Regions from separate parts of the Homo sapiens genome. Here regions 1, 3, 4, 5 and 6 are each reported to be linked to region 2. The links are microRNA targets in miRTarBase. Many come from high-throughput screens and were not tested one by one. Region 2 holds a microRNA gene; each other region holds the end of a gene's coding sequence. Distances are from middle to middle.

Region 1 (3,121 bases), not on the chromosome of region 2:
ATCTTAAAAATCAACCTTAACACCAAAATATACATGTAATTTTAACTTGGTTTAGGAAAACATGAAAGAACTGTCACATTTTGGTGTGAACAAGGTTCTGAAAACCCCCTATCAGAGGTCTCATTCACTTTTTTCCACATATCACTTGAAGGTTTTGAAACTGGTAAAAACAGAATTCAGCTCGATGTACATCAAAACTTTAACAGTTCTGAAAAAGACGTATTTCGTAAGGGCCAAAATGTACAGCACAGCAATATTACAATGTTACAGTATAAATATGTCAAGCCAATTTGTAATAAAATAAGACAGTTGTCTTCAAAAGAGCTGTTTGACTATAGAGCAACCAAATAGATCTAGAACATCTTTGGAAAAACCACAAAGTGCCTTTACAGAAAGTTAAGTTTAGACTACACTTAATTAAAAGATAATACTCTAAACTCAAAATTATTTTCTCTATATGAGGAATTTTGACACTTGTTTTCACACCTGCCAATATTCAATATTTTTAACTCACACTTCTTTTCATACATCTGCCAATATTTAATATTTTATTCTATGCCCCTGCACTGAATTGATGTAAGTGTGAAGTTCCACTATTATTATTACCACACATGCTAATACCTAATAACTGGTCTGTCATTATGTAGTGGTTAAATAAGCAAATGCTGAACTCAGCACAGCTCTAGCAAAATGCAAAGGAAATAAGAAAAGCCTCACCTCAGAATGATTACACCATAAACAGAAATAAACATTTTCAAACACAAAGTTTCACAAAATAATATATCATCACTTTAAAAGAAATTCAGAACTCTATTTTGCTGTTGATCAAACTTGTGCATACACTCAAGTTACTAAACACAATTTGATAGTTAGATACTTGTAAAAATGCATTCTAAACTTAATAATCAATTAATTCATAATTAACAAGAGCAAACATTCCTAGTCCTAACATTTAAAAAAACCCAGTCCAGTGCTGCCACATCTCAAGTTCTGAAAAGCTAAAGGCAGGAACAATTCTGGTTATACAATTCCTGCATTTCTCCACCTTAAAAAATACTTGAAGAAACTTTAGGAAACTTTATATTAAGGCTTGCTGTATTTCTGTATCTTAAATTGAGAAAAATCAAAACCTACGATGTAACCTCGAATTATTTAAATAGCTTTTGGCATTTTTCTTGAAAAGCAAATTTGAATCTTTCACTATAAAACATTTCTATACCACAATTACTAATTCACATTAATGTGTAAGTGCCCTCATTTCCTATTCCCTGGCAGGCGCTATGTCTTCTTTCTACGTTTTGTGCAGCTTTCAGAACAGTCAGTGCTCAGAAAAAATGAAAACGTAATGGAGCAAAATCAAAGTCCCCAAAAAAAGTGATTTATCCTAGATTACAAAATCCAGTAGTGGAAGAACCAACATTTACACACCCAAATACACACACACCCACACATACACAGGACACAGCGAGAGATGAGAGAGAGTGGGGGGTGGGGGAGGTGAGAGACAGTGGGAGGAGGGGGGAGGGGGAAGAGAGTGGGAGGAGGGGAGAGAGAGTTGCAGGGAGGGAAGAGAGAGACAAAAGCAAGACACAACCTTTGTCCTCTATTCATGTCAACTTGCAGTTTCTGGACACAAACTAGTAGGAAATGTAGAGCCCAGAAAGATCGTGTCAGAGAACTTGACGAGACAGTGTAGATATAGTTTATCTGGGTGGGGCGGGGTGGGGGGAAATCCCAATTTTTCTAAAACAAACAAACAAACAAACAAAAAAAACACCACATTCTTGGTAGAGGTTTTTTCAAAAATCCAACAATAAAAACTACTGGGCTTCTCTAAATGCATTTCCATATTAACATTAATTTTTAAAATTTCAACATGTTTTACAATTTAAGTTTTCACTTGTAAGATAAGTTGGGAACCCAAAATTGTCAAAAAAAATTTTAATTATTGTCAATAAAAATTCTTACTGCACAATCTTTATAGGCGTTTTATTTTAAAGCACCTTTTTAAATTTTAACAGTGGGTTTCTAAAAAGAAAACAGTAAAATAAAAGAGGGAACAAACTGGCAAGGTTAAAGTACTCCCTTACACACACACACACACACACACACACACACACACACACACACACCTTTCATGCCAGAATGACTGGCAGCATTGGCAAATAATGTCAATGAAAGGATGGGGGAAACTATCACTTATAGTGTTTATAGAAACCTAAAATACTAATGTTTCTGCTAAGAAATTAAATAGTTTGGGGAAATCAAAAAGCTACCAATAGCTGATCTATGAAATATGAAAATGAAACTGATTTTTAAAAACAGGAAAGGCCAAAAATCTACTAGAAATTTTTAAAAATCAGCCTCAATTTTATTTTCTGATGTCAGACTAGTTATTAATTAGATACCATTTGTTTGCAAAGGAGCAAAATTATAACTCTATCACTGGAACCTATCCTCAGCCACTTCAGTGCAGTTTCTAGCAGCACTATTTGGATACAAAAAGAATGTGGTCAGACAATGCCCCTGAAAACCCCCTGGTTAGACCTTCCTTCAAATACATGTTCTTAGGGTCTTGACACACTACACATGTGTATAGAAGAATAAATGAAGGTAGTATTTTGACAGATTACAAAAGTATGAACTATATACACCGAGTGATAACACAAAGCGCTCAGAAAGCTATATTTACTTGCCTCCCAACTGACTTACGATGTTAATATTCACTATTCAAATTTTATCCTAAACATCTTTATTGGCTTGTTCCCCTCCCCAAACAAATACTAAAATATACTGGTTTGGGGTTTGCTCTATGCATTTTCCAAGAGCCAATCAAACAGCGACTTGCATCTCTCCTCACTGGAAGCTTTTTCCATCACTTCATAGTATTGAAGCACAGCCTGCAGGAGGTCTCCCACTTTCCATCCTTTCTCTTGTAATTGTTTTGAAAGCTAAGAAAGAAAGATGTGTCAAACATTAACCAAAAACAATTTTATAACAAAGCTTTTATTTTTATTTTCAATATTAGCTGAAACTTAAGAATCCTGCTGTTTACAATTAAATACCGTTTCCTAGTTATAACAAGGTCTTCCCCTCTAAACCGCTACCCCTTTACCCAAAT
Region 2 (3,121 bases):
CTAGGGTGTGTGTGCGTGTGCGTGTGTGTGCGTGTGTGTGTGGTTCTTTTCTGAGACAATATCTGCCTCTGTCACCCAAGATGGAGTGTGGTGGTGCAATCTCGGCTTACTGCAACCTCCACCTCCCACCTAAGCCTGCTGAATTAGTCTCTACAGGCATGCACCACCACACCTGGCTAACTTCTGTAATTTTTGTACACATGGGGTCTCGCCATGTTGCCGGGGCTGGTCTCGAGCTCCTGAGGCAGGTGATCCTCCTGCCTGGGCCTCCTAAAGTTCGAGGAGTTAGAGGTCTGAGCCACTGGGCCCCACTTGTACTTGTGTATTTCTGCTCAAATTTTATTGAGTAGTTTTTACATCCTAGCCTGTGATCTACTCTGGAGAGTGTTTGTGCATATGACAGTGTATATTCTTCAACATCGTAGACTCCATTTTGGATGCTCCCTTCGTGACTGTGGGTCCTGTACTGGAACTCGAGTGAACACTTGGCTTAAAATCCATTGCTGTTCTCCAGAAATCCTGCCCAATTTTCTCGGTTAAAGGTACGTGTAGTAGGCATTGCTTTTTCTCTTTGGGGACAAAACTCAGGAGGATTGCCCCTTGATGAACAAGGCTAACCTGCTGATTCTTTGAAGCAAGGAACTGGAGATGGTCCTTATAGAGTTTTATATTCTGGATTCCATAAAACATGCATACAGGGTCAATAAATGCATCTTTATTTTTGTGTCTATTTTAACTTGGTCAAAGAAAATTCCAGGAAAAAATCCACGGCATCAGAGCAAGAAGATGTCAGGCTGTGACCCTCTTGAGGGAAGCACTTTCTGTTGTCTGAAAGAAGAGAAAGTGCTTCCTTTTAGAGGCTTACTGTCTGAGAAAAGCAACGTTGTAGTTGATGCTGATCTTTGTAATATCTTTGCAGAGCACGCTTATAATCAGACTTGGATGATGTTGGGGTTTTGTTTTTCTTTTGTTTTTTTATCTAAGACTGGGTCTCTGTTGCCCAGGCTGAAGTGCAGTGGCACAATCTTGGCTCACCACAACCTCCGCCTCCCGGGTTCAAGTGATTCTTCTGCCTCAGCCTCCCAAGTAGCTGGGATTATAGGACTGCGCCACCATGCCTGGCTAATTTTGTATTTTTAGTAGAGACAGGGTTTCTTTAGGAGCTTTTAAGGCCTCCCTTGTAGTCTATCCTGGAGGATGTTTGTGTGTGCAACAATGTATATTCTTCAACATGGTAGATTCCATTTTGACTGCTCTAATCAGGACTGTGTGTCCCTGTGCTGGAAATCAAGTGAACACTTGGCTGAAAATCCACTGCTGTTCTCTAGAAATCCAGCCCAATTCTCTTGGTTAAATATAAGGTATGCATAGTAGGCATTGCTTTTTCTTTCTGGACACAAAACTCAGGAGGATTTCCCCTTGATGAACAAGGCTAACCTGCTGAGCCTTTGTAGGAAGGAACGGGAGATGGTCTTTTTAGGGGTCTATGTTCTGGATTCCAGAAAACATGCAAACAGAGCCAATAAATAGGTCTTTATTTTTGTCTCTATTTTAACCTGGTCAAGGAAAATTTCTACAAAAAACCCAGGGTGCTGGAGCAAGAAGATCCCATGCTGTGACCCTCTAGAGGGAAGCGCTTTCTGTTGTCTGAAAGAAAAGAAAGTGCATCCTTTTAGAGGTTTACTGTTTGAGGAAAGCAACAGTGAAGTTGATGCTGATCTTGGTAATACATTTGCAGAGCATGCTTATCATCAGACTTGGATGATGGTGGGATTCTGTTTTTATTTTGTTTTTTTTTCTAAGACAGAGTCTCTCTTGCCCAGGCTGGAGTAGGGTAGCACTTCCAACGTAGATCTTTTAGGCTCAAACGGTCCTCTTTTTTTTTTTTTTTTTTTTGAGGCGGAGTCTTGCTCTGTGACCCAGACGAGAGTGCAATGGCGCGATCTTGTGTGCAAGCTCACCTCCTGAGTTCAAGCAATTCTTCTGCCCCAGCCTCCCAAGTAGCTGGGACTACAGGTGCCTGCCACCACTTCCAGCTAATTTTTGTATTTTTAGTAGAGACAGGGTTTCACCACGTTGGCCAGGCTGGTCTCAAACTACTGACCTCAAGATCCACCCACCTCAGCCTCCCAAAGTGCTGGGATTACAGGCGTGGGCCATTGTGCCCAGCGGTCCTCTTTTTTGAGATGGAGTCTTGCTCTGTGACCCAGGCTGGAGTGCAGTGGCAGGAACTTCGCTCCCTGTACCCTCCACCTCCCAGATTCAAGCCATTCTCTCCTGAGTCAGCCTCCCTAGTAGCTGAGATCGCAGACATGAGCCACCATACCCAGCTAATTTTTGTATTTTTATTATTTATTTATTTACTCATCGATTTTTGAAACAGAGTCTTACTCCGTCCATCAGGCTGGAGGTCAGTGGCACAATCCCACGTTCAAGCAATTCTCCTGCCTCATCCTCCCGAGTAGCTGGGATCACAGGCGCACACCACCACGCCCGGCTAATTTTTGTGTTTTTTTTGTTTGTTCGTTTTTTTTTTTTTTGTAGAGACAGGGTTTCAACATGTTGGCCAGCCCAGTCTCCAACTCCTGACCTTAAGTGAGCCCATACACAATCAAGAAGAGAGCGAGACCTGTTCTTTTTTTCTGTCTTTGACTATTTGAGACAGTCTTGCTCTGTCACCCGAGATGGAGTACATTAGTGTGATCTTGGCTCACTGCAACCTCTGCCTCCTGGACTCAAGCAATTCTCTTTTTTTTTTTTTTGGAGAAAGAGCCTCTCTGTGTCTCCCAGGCTGGACTGCAGTGGTGTGATCTCAGCTCACTGCAACCTCAGCCTTCCAAGTAGCTGGGATTGCAGACATGTACCCCCATACCAGCTATATATATATATGTATTTTAGACACAGTTTCACCATGTTAGCCAGGCCATTCTTGAATCCTGACCTCAGGTGATTTGCCGACGTAGGCCTCCCGAAGTGCTGGGATTACAGGTATGAGCCACTGCACTCAGCCTTTTTTCCTAATTTTGAATATGGGACCCATTATGAATTTGGGTGTCACCTATGTGCGGGGGCTATGGAAATCTCTGTCACCCCATTCATTTGTGTGTGCTGTCAAAGCACC
Region 3 (3,121 bases), not on the chromosome of region 2:
AGAACTAGGGGTCCCCCAGATGGGCCTTGGGAACCAGAGCCCAAGGTCATTCTTCAGGAAGCCCTCCTGGGGTTGTCTCGAGCTGGAACTGACCTCTTCCCTGCTGTCCTCCAGGCACCTCGGAACTGAACCCATTCTCCGACCCCCGCCAGTTTGACCGCTCCTTCCCCACGCTGCCAACCCTCACGGAGAGCCGCTTCCCAGACCCCAGGATGCATTATCCCGGGGCCATGTCAGCTGCCTTCCCCTACAGCGCCACGCCCTCGGGCACGAGCATCAGCAGCCTCAGCGTGGCGGGCATGCCGGCCACCAGCCGCTTCCACCATACCTACCTCCCGCCACCCTACCCGGGGGCCCCGCAGAACCAGAGCGGGCCCTTCCAGGCCAACCCGTCCCCCTACCACCTCTACTACGGGACATCCTCTGGCTCCTACCAGTTCTCCATGGTGGCCGGCAGCAGCAGTGGGGGCGACCGCTCACCTACCCGCATGCTGGCCTCTTGCACCAGCAGCGCTGCCTCTGTCGCCGCCGGCAACCTCATGAACCCCAGCCTGGGCGGCCAGAGTGATGGCGTGGAGGCCGACGGCAGCCACAGCAACTCACCCACGGCCCTGAGCACGCCAGGCCGCATGGATGAGGCCGTGTGGCGGCCCTACTGACCGCCCTGGTGGACTCCTCCCGCTGGAGGCGGGGACCCTAACAACCTTCAAGACCAGTGATGGGCCGGCTCCGAGGCTCCGGGCGGGAATGGGACCTGCGCTCCAGGGTGGTCTCGGTCCCAGGGTGGTCCCAGCTGGTGGGAGCCTCTGGCTGCATCTGTGCAGCCACATCCTTGTACAGAGGCATAGGTTACCACCCCCACCCCGGCCCGGGATACTGCCCCCGGCCCAGATCCTGGCCGTCTCATCCCATACTTCTGTGGGGAATCAGCCTCCTGCCACCCCCCCGGAAGGACCTCACTGTCTCCAGCTATGCCCAGTGCTGCATGGGACCCATGTCTCCTGGGACAGAGGCCATCTCTCTTCCAGAGAGAGGCAGCATTGGCCCACAGGATAAGCCTCAGGCCCTGGGAAACCTCCCGACCCCTGCACCTTCGTTGGAGCCCCTGCATCCCCTGGGTCCAGCCCCCTCTGCATTTACACAGATTTGAGTCAGAACTGGAAAGTGTCCCCCACCCCCACCACCCTCGAGCGGGGTTCCCCTCATTGTACAGATGGGGCAGGACCCAGCACGCTGCTGGCAGAGATGGTTTGAGAACACATCCAAGCCAGTCCCCCCAGCCCAGCTTCCCCTCCGTTCCTAACTGTTGGCTTTCCCCCAGCCGCACGGGTCCCAGGCCCCAGAGAAGATGAGTCTATGGCATCAGGTTCTTAAACCCAGGAAAGCACCTACAGACCGGCTCCTCCATGCACTTTACCAGCTCAACGCATCCACTCTCTGTTCTCTTGGCAGGGCGGGGGAGGGGGGATAGGAGGTCCCCTTTCCCCTAGGTGGTCTCATAATTCCATTTGTGGAGAGAACAGGAGGGCCAGATAGATAGGTCCTAGCAGAAGGCATTGAGGTGAGGGATCATTTTGGGTCAGACATCAATGTCCCTGTCCCCCCTGGGTCCAGCCAAGCTGTGCCCCATCCCCCAAGCCTCCTGGGAGGATCCAGCCAAATCTTGCGACTCCTGGCACACACCTGTCTGTAACCTGTTTTGTGCTCTGAAAGCAAATAGTCCTGAGCAAAAAAAAAAAAAAAACAAAAAAACAAAAAAAAAACAAAACAGTTTTTAAAACTGATTTTAGAAAAAGAAGCTTAATCTAACGTTTTCAAACACAAGGTCTCTTACAGGTATAGTTCCGTGATTATGATAGCTCTGTGATTATAAGCAACATCCCCGCCCCCTCTCCCCCCCGCGGACCCCCAGCTGCCTCCTGAGGGTGTGGGGTTATTAGGGTCTCAATACTTTCTCAAGGGGCTACACTCCCCATCAGGCAGCATCCCACCAGCCTGCACCACAGGCTCCCCTGGGAGGACGAGGGAAACGCTGATGAGACGCTGGGCATCTCTCCTCTGTGGCTCTAGGACATCTGTCCAGGAGGCTGGGCGGAGGTGGGCAGGATGTGAGAGGTGGGGAGTACTGGCTGTGCGTGGCAGGACAGAAGCACTGTAAAGGGCTCTCCAGCCGCAGCTCAGCTGCACTGCGTTCCGAGGTGAAGTCTTGCCCCTGAATTTTGCAAAATGGGAAAGTGGGCGCTTGCCCAAGGGCCAGGCTGCATGGATTCTCACATCAGAGTTCTCTGGCCCTAGAAAGGCTTAGAAAAGGCGTAAGGGAACTCATAAAGGCTAGCAGCATGCGGTATTTTAACTTTCTGCCTCGGCCTCTGTGGATGCAGAAATCTGCCCTACAAAATGCTCTTCATTGGTTGTCTCTGTGAGAGCACTGTCCCCACCCAACCTGTCACAACGGCCAGAACCATACACCAGAGACACACTGGCAGGTTAGGCAGTCCTTCTGGTGATCCTATTCCATTCCCTCCTGCTGCGGTTTCTCTTGGCCTGTCCTCACTGGAAAAACAGTCTCCATCTCCTCAAAATAGTTGCTGACTCCCTGCACCCAAGGGGCCTCTCCATGCCTTCTTAGGAAGCAGCTATGAATCCATTGTCCTTGTAGTTTCTTCCCTCCTGTTCTCTGGTTATAGCTGGTCCCAGGTCAGCGTGGGAGGCACCTTTGGGTTCCCAGTGCCCAGCACTTTGTAGTCTCATCCCAGATTACTAACCCTTCCTGATCCTGGAGAGGCAGGGATAGTAAATAAATTGCTCTTCCTACCCCATCCCCCATCCCCTGACAAAAAGTGACGGCAGCCGTACTGAGTCTGTAAGGCCCAAAGTGGGTACAGACAGCCTGGGCTGGTAAAAGTAGGTCCTTATTTACAAGGCTGCGTTAAAGTTGTACTAGGCAAACACACTGATGTAGGAAGCACGAGGAAAGGAAGACGTTTTGATATAGTGTTACTGTGAGCCTGTCAGTAGTGGGTACCAATCTTTTGTGACATATTGTCATGCTGAGGTGTGACACCTGCTGCACTCATCTGATGTAAAACCATCCCAGAGCTGGCGAGAGGATGGAGCTGGG
Region 4 (3,121 bases), 47 Mb from region 2:
CCCTCCACACGAGACTTGTTCCTAGGCCACGCCCCCACCAGCCTTGGTCCCAGCCCCTTTCCCTAGGCTACGCCCCTTCGCCATAGGCCCCGCCCTCCATACGGGGCGTGTGGTCCTGGCCCCTCTCCACAGACCCCGCTGTCGCTCAGTCCTAAGCCCCGCCCCTGCATTTGTCCTAGGTTCCACCTCTGCCCTATGCCCCATCTACAGCCCCAAACCCTGATCAGACCCTCCCCCTCCGCAGGACCCTGCGACCCCGGCGAGGTGGCGCTGCCGCACGTGGCACCCATGGTTCGCCTACTGGAGGGCGAGGAAGTCGCGGGGCCGCTGGACGAGAGCTGTGAGCGGCTGTTGCGCACCCTGCACGGGGCGCGTCACATGGTCCGGGACGCACCCAAATTCCGCAAGGTGGCAGCCCAGCGCCTGCGAGGTGAGCGTTCCCTCTGCGCTGGACTGCAGACTTCAGAGCACCCTGCAGGTTCTAACCGGATCCCCCAAACCCAGCCTGTCCCAGGAGGGGAGCCTCTCGCCACGCCTCCCGGAGCCCCACCCAAACTGGGACGGCTCCACTCCAGGAAGGTTCTCACCCCAAGCAAACGCTGCATCCAGCGGTATTGATAGGAACAGGGCCGTCCACCTCAAAACGGGCTGTCCTGCCCCCAGAGCCACCTCCGCGGGTCCCCACTCCCCCTTCCCACCTAAGACGATCCCGTCCCCCAGGGATCTCGATCCCCAAGAACGCCCTGCTCCCTCCAAAACGACTCCTCCGTCCTATCCTAGGGCAGCCCACCCGGCAAGATCCCCCCACCTTCCCCGACAACCTGGGATCCCGTCCTCGGGGCAGCCCCACGTCCAGGCACAGCCCCTAAGGCGGGACCTCCAGGATCTGGCACCTGGAACAGGCCACCCCATTGCACTGCGGTAGAGCCCCTCAGGCACCCCACCCCCATTCCTGCAGAGAGCTGGAAGCCCCCTCCCCTCTGACCCCGCCTAGTCATCCCGCAGGTGGGGCAGGTCCCTCCCGGGCCCCTGTTGGGTCAAAGTCCTCTGGGGAAAGGAAGGTGCCGGGAGGTTGGGAGGGGCGAGGCGGGCGCCTGGGCCCCGCCCCCAGCCCACCTGACCTTGCTTCCAGGATTCCGGCCTAACCCGGAGCTGAGGGAGGCCCTGACCACCGGCTTCGTGCGGAGGCTGCTCTGGGGTAGCCGGGGCGCGGGAGCTCCGCGCGCTGAACGCTTTGAGAAGTTCCAGCGCGTCCTCGGCGTCCTGTCGCAGCGCCTGGAGCCTGACCGCTGAGAGCGCAGACACCCTTCTTCACACCCGGGACCCCCAGGTTTTTGCGAACCCCAGAAGAGACCAAAGGAGTCGTCCCAGGCTCCTCGCGCCTCAGGTGGAATCCTGCCCTGTGCCTCACAGAAGAGGTGGGGACCGCAGTCAGGGTCACCTGGACCATGGTGAACATGTGACCTGCAGATCTGGCATCAGAGGCCAGAGTTCAAATGTGACTCCACCTCTTAAAAGCCGTGATTTCTAGCAGTTGACTTCACCTCTGTGTCGGCCTTTAACAAAATCATAGCCATACAGCAGCTCAGGCCTGTAATCTCAGCACTTTGGGAGGCCGAGGCGGAAGGAAGGCTTGAGGCCAGGAGTTCAAGACCAGCCAGGGCAACATGGTGAGACCTCATCTCTACAAAAACTGAAAAATAAAAAACTTTTAAAAAATGTAAAAGTTGAGGCTGTGTACTTTCTAAGAATTGTGGCCAGGAATGAGACCCCAGGTGGAGAATGCCTGGCACACAGTAGGTCTTCAATAAGTGCTACCCATTCTCAGAAGCTGCAGTGCATTCAGAAGGGATGAAACTTGGGTGTCCTGGCCAGGTGCGGTGGCTCACGCCATAATCCCAGCACTTTAGGAGGCCGAGGCAGATGGATCACTTGAGGTCAGGAGTTCAAGACCAGCCTGGCCAACATGGCAAAACCCTGTCTCTACAAAAAATACAAAAATTAGCTGGGCATGATGGTGTGTGCCTGTAATCCCAGCTACTTGGGAGGCTGAGGCAGAATTGCTTGAACTCGGGAGATGGAGTCTGCAGTGAGCTGAGATCACGTACGCCACTGCACTCCAGCCTGGGCAACTGGGTGAGACTGTCTCAAAAAGAAAAAAAAAAGAAACTTGGTATCCTTCTCCCTACCTGAGTCACAAGCAGACACCCACTGACAATGACATAGGCCAACTTCCAGAAAGGGGCAGGGTTGACCCAAGGTGTGCCCAAGATCACCTCCCCTTCCTCATTCCCTGTGTGGCCTGTAAGAAACGTGGTGTTAGATACTTCCAGTCCCAGTATTTAAATCCTCTAATAAGACACCGACTCTAGGAACTTTATATAATTTCTTTTTTTTTTTTCCCATTTTTGTATAAAACAAAATGGCCGGAGCCGAGCGGCAGAAAGAAAAGATGTAAAACATGAGTATGTACATCAATGGTGGAACGATGGTAGAAGGCACAGCGGGTCCGTCCGGTGTGACAGGTAGGACTGGGTTGGGGGTGGAGGGGGCAGCAGGTTACACAGGTCTCAGCCGAAGCCACGGGGTCAGAAATAAAGTGCATAGGTCCTGGGGCTCCCCGTGGCCCAGAAGCAGCAGCCGACAGCCCCCCTCTTCCCGTCTCTGGCAGGGTTCAATTGAGCGTGACTCGGAGGTAGGAGGTGGGCACGTAGCCCTCGCCTCCCTCTTTCCGCCTGACCCGGGTCCAGCCGTCCCCTTTGTCTTCTTCCATAAGACTGAGGTCTTCACCCTCGGCCATAGAGATAGTGCCCTCGCTGGACCCTGTGATGGGGGTGGGGGTGGGCCCAGATCTGCTTTAGGCAAAATTTATTATTTTTATTTTTTATTTTTGAGACAGAGCCTCGCTCTCGCCCAGGCTGGAGTGCAGTGGCACGGATCTTGGCTCCCTGCAACCTCTGCCTCCAGGTTCAAGGGATTCTCCTGCCTCAGCCTCCCGAGTAGCTGGGATCACAGGCGTGCGCCACCACACCTGGCTAATTTTTGTACTTTCAGTAGAGATGGGGTTTCACCGTGTTCGCCAGGCTGGTATGGAATTCTTGACCTCAAGTGATCTGCCTGC
Region 5 (3,000 bases), not on the chromosome of region 2:
CCGGGGCAGCCTGTGAGTGGCCCTGGAGGTGTGCACAGTGGTTGGTTGTAGCTGCCCAGGGACAGAATGGACAGGGGGACTTCTACAGTCCTAGTCCTGTCATAGTTTCTTTTCCAGGTCCCAGGAACCGCTTGGGGTGATCTCACGTTATACATCGGGGCATGGCATGGGGATCAGATAGCTCTGACTGAGGAAACTCAGAAGGCTTCAGTGAGTGAGTGAGGTCAGAGCTGAAATTCTTGATAAATGCAAGCACTCTAGATTGGTCACAGGTCTTGGAAAAACCTGAGGTTCTTTGGGCAGCAGAGTTACGCGTTTGCAGGCTCTTGGTGACACAGGAGCAGTGGTGATGCCTCATCTGGTGCATTGCAGAATTGGAGGCCCATCCCTGCCAGACCTCCAGGCTGAGTTTGGCAGCATTAGTGCAGCGTCAGCCCCTTTCCTGGGCCTGGCTCCAGAGCCAGCAGGAGGCCCGACGTGCTGATGGATCATCTTCTCTCCTAGGCAAACCGGAGCTGAAGGGTTTTAACTTGAACCCCCTCAACCAGGATGAGCTTAAAGCTCTCAAGGTCATCTTGAAAGGATGAGACTCAAGAACCAAGATGGGGGACCAGCAACCCCCCAGGGTCATGGAGGACCCAGGACCCTCCAACCTTGACACCTGTAAGGACAGGATCTGCCCTGTAAGGGGCCAGCCGTCAGGAATCTGGCCATGAAAACCTCTTTGTAGTGCTTGGCTACTCTGTGATGGCAGGAGGGAACCTTCAGCCTGTCTGGCTGCTGGACCTGGACACCAGGGCTCGGTGGACACAAGATCTATTGACGGGCCTTGGTAGCCACCAGTGGGTGTGTGGGGCAGTGGCTGTGGGGGTGTAAGAATGACTGCAACAGGCACTTCCCAACAATGGCCTGCTGTTCACATGGACCCTGAGCAAGGAAGGAGGGAGGGAGGGGCAGAGTGGAGTGTCATTCCAGCATTCCTCTCAGAAGGGAGAGAGGTTTTCAGGCTGGTGCCATGCGATTGGAATAAAGCAGGAGGCTCATGGGTGGTTGCTGAATGAAGAACAGAATCTTGGTGCTTTGTGGCTCACCACAGCCATCTGTGGGGCAGGCACACACACCTCCCGCCAGCTCCAATTTTGCACTTTTTCCCTGCTTGATTCCAAGAGTAGGTGCTGCCTAGCAGCCCTTCGTGGCCACTCTTTACTCAGGAGGGCCTTGCAGAGTCCTGCACCAGGCCTGGGTGAGTGGATGCGCCTCTTACCATATGACACGTGTCAAGATGCCCTTCCGCCCCCTCTGAAAGTGGGGCCCGGCCAGCACTGCTCGTTACTGTCTGCCTTCAGTGGTCTGAGGTCCCAGTATGAACTGCCGTGAAGTCAAAACTCTTATGTGTTCATTAAGGGCTCAATAAATGTTAGCTGAATGAATGAATAGCAGCAACTAGTCTTTATTTGCCTCATCTAGTCCTTCAGTAAGGGCACGCCACTCCATTTAGAATACAACCTATGAACATGGTTCTTGCCTTGAAATAAACCTGTGATTTGACAGGCGGGTGATAACAAATGGCAGCATGGCAGGGGCACACCTCTCCTGGTCCCCCCGCTCCTTGGCTCTGGCTCATAGTTACATAGAAACACAGGCTGTCATGGCCAGTTCTTACGTGTTTTCAAGAGAAGCTAGACATATGGGTTGTGAAGTTGAATCTCCTTTTAAATATTTTTGACTAATGCAGAAACTTTTAAAACATGAGTGTGGGTCACAGGTGTTAGCTCCAGATAGTGCAATACCATACAACTATAATCAAGAATAAGGAACAAGCTCCAAGATACATCAAGTGAGGAAAGCAAGGGGAAGGCTGGTGTCTTATAAGCTAATAATTTTTGTGCAAGCACAGTGTGATTCCCTCAGAACAGCACCTGCAGGGTTGGGGCGCACAGGTGGGAGGGAAGGAGATGTCACCCTATACCCTTTTGTAAACTTTGGATTTTAAACCGTATGAATATATTGCTTATTTTAAAATGTAAATAAAGTAGGGAGTTGCAGAATTCACCTTGCTAGATGTTGTCCAGTGTGACTGCCTGATTCACAATTTCATCACTGGAAAATTGCCCCTTCCTCCCTGGCAGGGTGGGTGCTGGGCCAAAAAAAGCTAATCGCATTCCTTCTGGAAATAGGGAACCTGGAGTCCATGCCTGGACCTGTCTGGGTTGGTGTGCCTCAGGTACAGGGATGAGTGGGAGAAGTCCTCATGCTCTGAAGGCAGAAGGTCTAGAGTAGCCTGGCTTCTGGCTTTCCTAAAGTCGGCTGGTTCACTTCTTGGATTTGCCAGTATTTTCCTTCCAAAAGTCTTCCCTTCGGGCTTGACCTAGGCAGGCAGATTCAACCATTTGCAGCCAGAGAAACTACTCTGAAGCAGGCGGAGTGGTAGAGGGAGTAAGTCCCCCCTGGAACAGTTACCCCAACAGCCCCGAGTCTTGTTGCAACCCCTCTTAAACCAAGAGGAAGCTTAGCAATGTAAGATGTGAAAAGGCAGATTTTTACTCACACTCAACTCCCGAAGCTGTCCTGCCCATGAGCCCAGGGTTTTCCGGTTTCTGGCTCAGCTCCCAATCTCAAACACAAGGCCTAGAGAAGCACTTAAGTCACCCATCTGACTTAGATAAATGCACCTTTGCAGAGACCCTCACTAAGCTCTGCCTCCCTGGTCTGTCTTGTCCATCTGAGAAATGGGGATGCCCTGTCCCACTGGTTTTCAGATGATGGTCAGGGAGCCCCATGGGCTCCCCTGACATGCAAGGAGAAGAGGATGTGTTTAGGGCTCAGTACTTCCCCAGGCCCCCAATAAACACACAATCTAATAACTGCTTGCTGTGTAAGCACAGCTTAAAGACGAGTTCCTTAGCCTCCAAACTCTTGCTCCTGAAGGACCTTTTCAGCACTGACTTGGGAGGTATCCAAGTGTCAAAGCCAGGAGGACTTGGCTGCAGCCAACAGTAT
Region 6 (3,121 bases), not on the chromosome of region 2:
ACCTTTACTTCCCGTTTCCCATGTCTTAAACAAAGTTTCTGGAATCCTCCATCAGAGACTCAGTGTAAACAGGTTTTCAGGGAGCTCCTTTCCCAACCAGTTCTGGCTAAGAACCACTCCAGGTGAAGACTGCAGTGACTGTCCCCTTCCTGGGGTTATGTGAGTAGGGGTTATATGACAGGGACCTGCTGAGGTGCTGCTCTGGGATGCCCTCTATGCTCCTTTCTTTCATCCTATTTCAGCCCCAAATACTTCAAGAAGGTGCCAGGGGAGGGGATGCCATTGCCGGAGGACCCCACTAAGAAAGGGGATCTCTTCATCTTCTTCGACATCCAGTTCCCCACCCGCCTCACACCCCAGAAGAAGCAGATGCTGCGCCAGGCATTGCTGACATGACTGTGGTGGGCTGGAGCAGGGGTGAGAGGAGGCTAGCCGGGCCTCACCCCACCCCTACCCGCCACAGCCTCAGGGTGTGCAGGGGAGCCTGCTGCACAGATATGATACAAGGGTGGGATGGCGCAGGGCTTAAACTGACATAATAAAGATCTATTTCCTGTCCTCCAGCTACACCCACGAGAGTACATTGGAGAGGAGCTTCATATTAGCCCTTCTTGTGGGGCACAGGGAAGAAAGAGGCCTAAGGAGCTGAGTGCCTGAGTCCCTGTCCTGGCTTTGTGGGAAAGGGCAGGTAAGGGTTCAGATCCTCTGTGCTTCCACTTTGATAGAGTGGGGCAGGGCTGTGTGGCCTCTGAGGGTCTCTAGCTCTGCTCTGGCTTTTCATGACAGAAGAGACAATCTCTGGAGCATGATATGGTCACGTTAGAGACAGGAAAACTAAAGCACAAAAGAAAACATTCATTGCAGGTCACTCAGGCCTCAGTGGCAAAGCTGTCATCAGAACCTTGAAGGTGGCTGGGTGCGGTGGCTCATGCCTGGACTTTGGGAGGCCAAGGTGGGCGGATCACTTGAGGTCAGGAGTTCGAGACCAGCATGGCCAACATAGTGAAACCTCGTCTCTACTAAATACAAAAATTAGCCAGGTGTGATGGTGGGCACCTGTAATCCCAGCTACTCCAAAGGTTGAGGCAGGAGAATTGCTTGAACCTGGGAGGCAGAGTTACAGTGAGCTGAGATTGCACCACTGCACTCCAGCCTGGGCGAAAGTGAAATTCCATCTCAAAAAAACTAGAAAGGCCGGGTGTGGTGGCTTATGCTTGTAATCCCAGCACTTTGGGAGGCCGAGGCAGGTGGATCACCTGAGGTCAGGAGTTCAAGACTAGCCTGGCCAACATGGTGAAAACCCGTTTCTACTAAAAATACAAAAATTAGCTGGGCATGGTGGCGAGGGCCTGTAATCCCAGCTACTCGGCAGGCTGAGGCAGGCGAATCACTTGAATCCAGGAGGTGGAGGTTGCAGTGAGCCGAGACTGCGCCACTGCACTCCAGCCTGGGTGACAGAGCAAGACTCTGTCTCAAACAAAAAACAAAAAAAACCCCCAAAAACCTTGAAGGTCACTTCCCACAGACTCGCCCTGCGTAGAGAAGCAGCATAAAGAACACATGTGCACTGGAAACAGCTTTGGTTCTACCTCTCTGGCCTCAATCCCCTGGTCTGTGATAGGGTCCTGGGCAGGGTGATCTGGGAGGCAGGAAACCTGAGTTCTGACCCCAGCCCTGCCACTTTCTCCTGGGACCAGTCACCACACCTGTCTTGTCAGTAAAGCAGAGCCCATAACCCCCCTCACGGGCATGTTGTGAGGACAGAGAACATTGATGTGAAAGTGCTTGGTGAACTCACTGCTTAGATTCAGGAAGGGGTAACAGCACTGCTGCCCTCAAGGCCTGGAGTTCCAGCATCCAGGTCCAACTGGGCCTGCGTAGACCACACTTGCCTCCTCATAGTCAACACGTGTGTTATGCTCCCCTTCCATGCCAGGGAGGTTCCCTTCTAGAGTCTGAGCTTGGGTGAGGATAGATCCAGGCTTACGGGGAGTAGGTAGCCAATTCCATGGAATGCCTTCAGAGGTGCCAGAAAAGGCCCCATGTTCTCCAGATTGCTTGGGACTCCACCATTCAAATCACATCAGCTTAAGGTTTTTTTTTTAAAACGGGGGTTCAGTAGCACTTTTGTCATTAAAAAAATCACCATGGGCTGGGCGCGGTGGCTCATGCCTGTAATCCCAGCACTTTGGGAGGCCGAGGCGGGTGGATCACAAGGTCAGGAGTTCAAGACCAGCCTGGGCAACATGGTGAAACTTTGTCTCTACTAAAAATACAAAAATTAGCCGGGCATGGTGGCATGCACTTGTAATCCCAGCTACTTGGCAGGCTGAGGCAGGAGAATCACTTGAACCCAGGAGGCAGAGGTTGCAGTGAGCTGAGATCTTGCCACTGCACTCCAGCCTGCACGACAGAAGAGACGCCATCTTAAAATTAAAAAAAAAATCACCATGAAGTCAGCTACCCAAAGACCTTGAGGTGAAGACTCTGGGACCAGGGCTCCAGGAAGCATTTCAGCATAGTAGTTAAAAGCATGTGGGCTTTGGAGTCAGACACACCTGTTCTGGATCCCCAGTGTGCTACTAGCCAGCTGTGTGCCTTTGGGCAAATCACTTCACCTCTCTGAACCCGTTTCTTAAAGCTTACAGCCCCTACCTTGCAGGCCTTTCATGGAAACCAGATGGTGAGGCATGAAATGCTCTGGGGCAGGACTCAGGTGGAGTGGGATGGTGAGAGCTGCCCTGTTCTGAGGGCAAGCCCTGAATTGGAGTGCAGAGGCAGGGCTGTGAAATTCTTCAACTCTAGGTCTCCTGTAGGGCAGCAGGAAAGCCTACTCCTTATCTTGAAGGAAGCCTGGGTCTTGGGCCTGAAAGTCCCTTAGGAGATTCCTATTACCTTAGTGATCTTCAGTGTTACCTTGAATTAGGCAAAGCAGGGCTTATCATCTGCCCACTTAATAGGCATTAAAGGGTTGGGAACCAAAGAGAAGTGATCTACCTGTGATCAGAATGAATGAGACCCACTGGTATGTTTTCCAGTGGTTCCTACCACTGTTCCCAGCTCATTGTCCTAAGGCCACACCCAGAACCACAGTGAAGTTGGGTAGCCTCGTGTCTATTAA

The links. The annotated mature microRNA hsa-miR-526b-3p reads GAAAGUGCUUCCUUUUAGAGGC and lies in region 2 at 840-861, shown strand. An mRNA with a match to its seed (bases 2 to 7 or 8) in the 3' UTR can be bound and repressed. Matches are read on the target gene's strand: a 7mer-m8 pairs with bases 2 to 8, a 7mer-A1 pairs with bases 2 to 7 and ends in A, and an 8mer does both.
Region 1: the mRNA of AKAP11 is a reported target of hsa-miR-526b-3p. Seed matches in the 3' UTR shown: 7mer-m8 at 378-384.
Region 3: the mRNA of RUNX3 is a reported target of hsa-miR-526b-3p. Seed matches in the 3' UTR shown: 8mer at 1,409-1,416 and 7mer-m8 at 2,735-2,741.
Region 4: the mRNA of TRIP10 is a reported target of hsa-miR-526b-3p. Seed matches in the 3' UTR shown: 8mer at 2,596-2,603.
Region 5: the mRNA of PDRG1 is a reported target of hsa-miR-526b-3p. Seed matches in the 3' UTR shown: 7mer-m8 at 1,142-1,148.
Region 6: the mRNA of DNAJB13 is a reported target of hsa-miR-526b-3p. The part of its 3' UTR that is shown has no 7-base or 8-base seed match.

What each region holds. Positions count from the first base shown.
Region 1 is chr13:42,318,918-42,322,038 of GRCh38, reverse strand. It overlaps AKAP11 (A-kinase anchoring protein 11), which reads right to left. Exons shown (of 13, transcript NM_016248.4): 13 at 1-2,951. The coding sequence ends at 2,811. Among named protein-coding and RNA genes, the nearest start is that of AKAP11, 48 kb to the right of the region's middle.
Region 2 is chr19:53,693,604-53,696,724 of GRCh38, forward strand. MIR526B (microRNA 526b) reads left to right here and starts at 790; the gene lies at 790-872. It overlaps MIR519B (microRNA 519b), which reads left to right and starts at 1,610; the gene lies at 1,610-1,690. It overlaps LOC107985342 (a long non-coding RNA gene), which reads left to right. Exons shown (of 3, transcript XR_007067332.1): 3 at 426-1,019.
Region 3 is chr1:24,899,660-24,902,780 of GRCh38, reverse strand. It overlaps RUNX3 (RUNX family transcription factor 3), which reads left to right. Exons shown (of 5, transcript NM_004350.3): 5 at 115-3,121. The coding sequence ends at 659. Among named protein-coding and RNA genes, the nearest start is that of MIR6731, 18 kb to the left of the region's middle. RefSeq lists enhancers at 384-453, 534-603, 934-1,383, 2,151-2,200.
Region 4 is chr19:6,750,765-6,753,885 of GRCh38, reverse strand. It overlaps TRIP10 (thyroid hormone receptor interactor 10), which reads right to left. Exons shown (of 15, transcript NM_001288962.2): 15 at 2,356-2,823. The coding sequence ends at 2,675. SH2D3A (SH2 domain containing 3A) reads left to right here. Exons shown (of 10, transcript NM_005490.3): 9 at 245-430; 10 at 1,133-1,726. The coding sequence ends at 1,293. Among named protein-coding and RNA genes, the nearest start is that of TRIP10, 13 kb to the right of the region's middle. RefSeq lists silencers at 1-136, 307-486.
Region 5 is chr20:31,943,394-31,946,393 of GRCh38, reverse strand. It overlaps PDRG1 (p53 and DNA damage regulated 1), which reads left to right. Exons shown (of 5, transcript NM_030815.3): 5 at 505-2,057. The coding sequence ends at 587. TTLL9 (tubulin tyrosine ligase like 9) reads right to left here. Exons shown (of 15, transcript NM_001008409.5): 15 at 1,394-3,000. Among named protein-coding and RNA genes, the nearest start is that of PDRG1, 7.2 kb to the left of the region's middle.
Region 6 is chr11:73,969,719-73,972,839 of GRCh38, forward strand. It overlaps DNAJB13 (DnaJ heat shock protein family (Hsp40) member B13), which reads left to right. Exons shown (of 8, transcript NM_153614.4): 8 at 243-563. The coding sequence ends at 396. Among named protein-coding and RNA genes, the nearest start is that of UCP2, 12 kb to the right of the region's middle. RefSeq lists an enhancer at 568-727.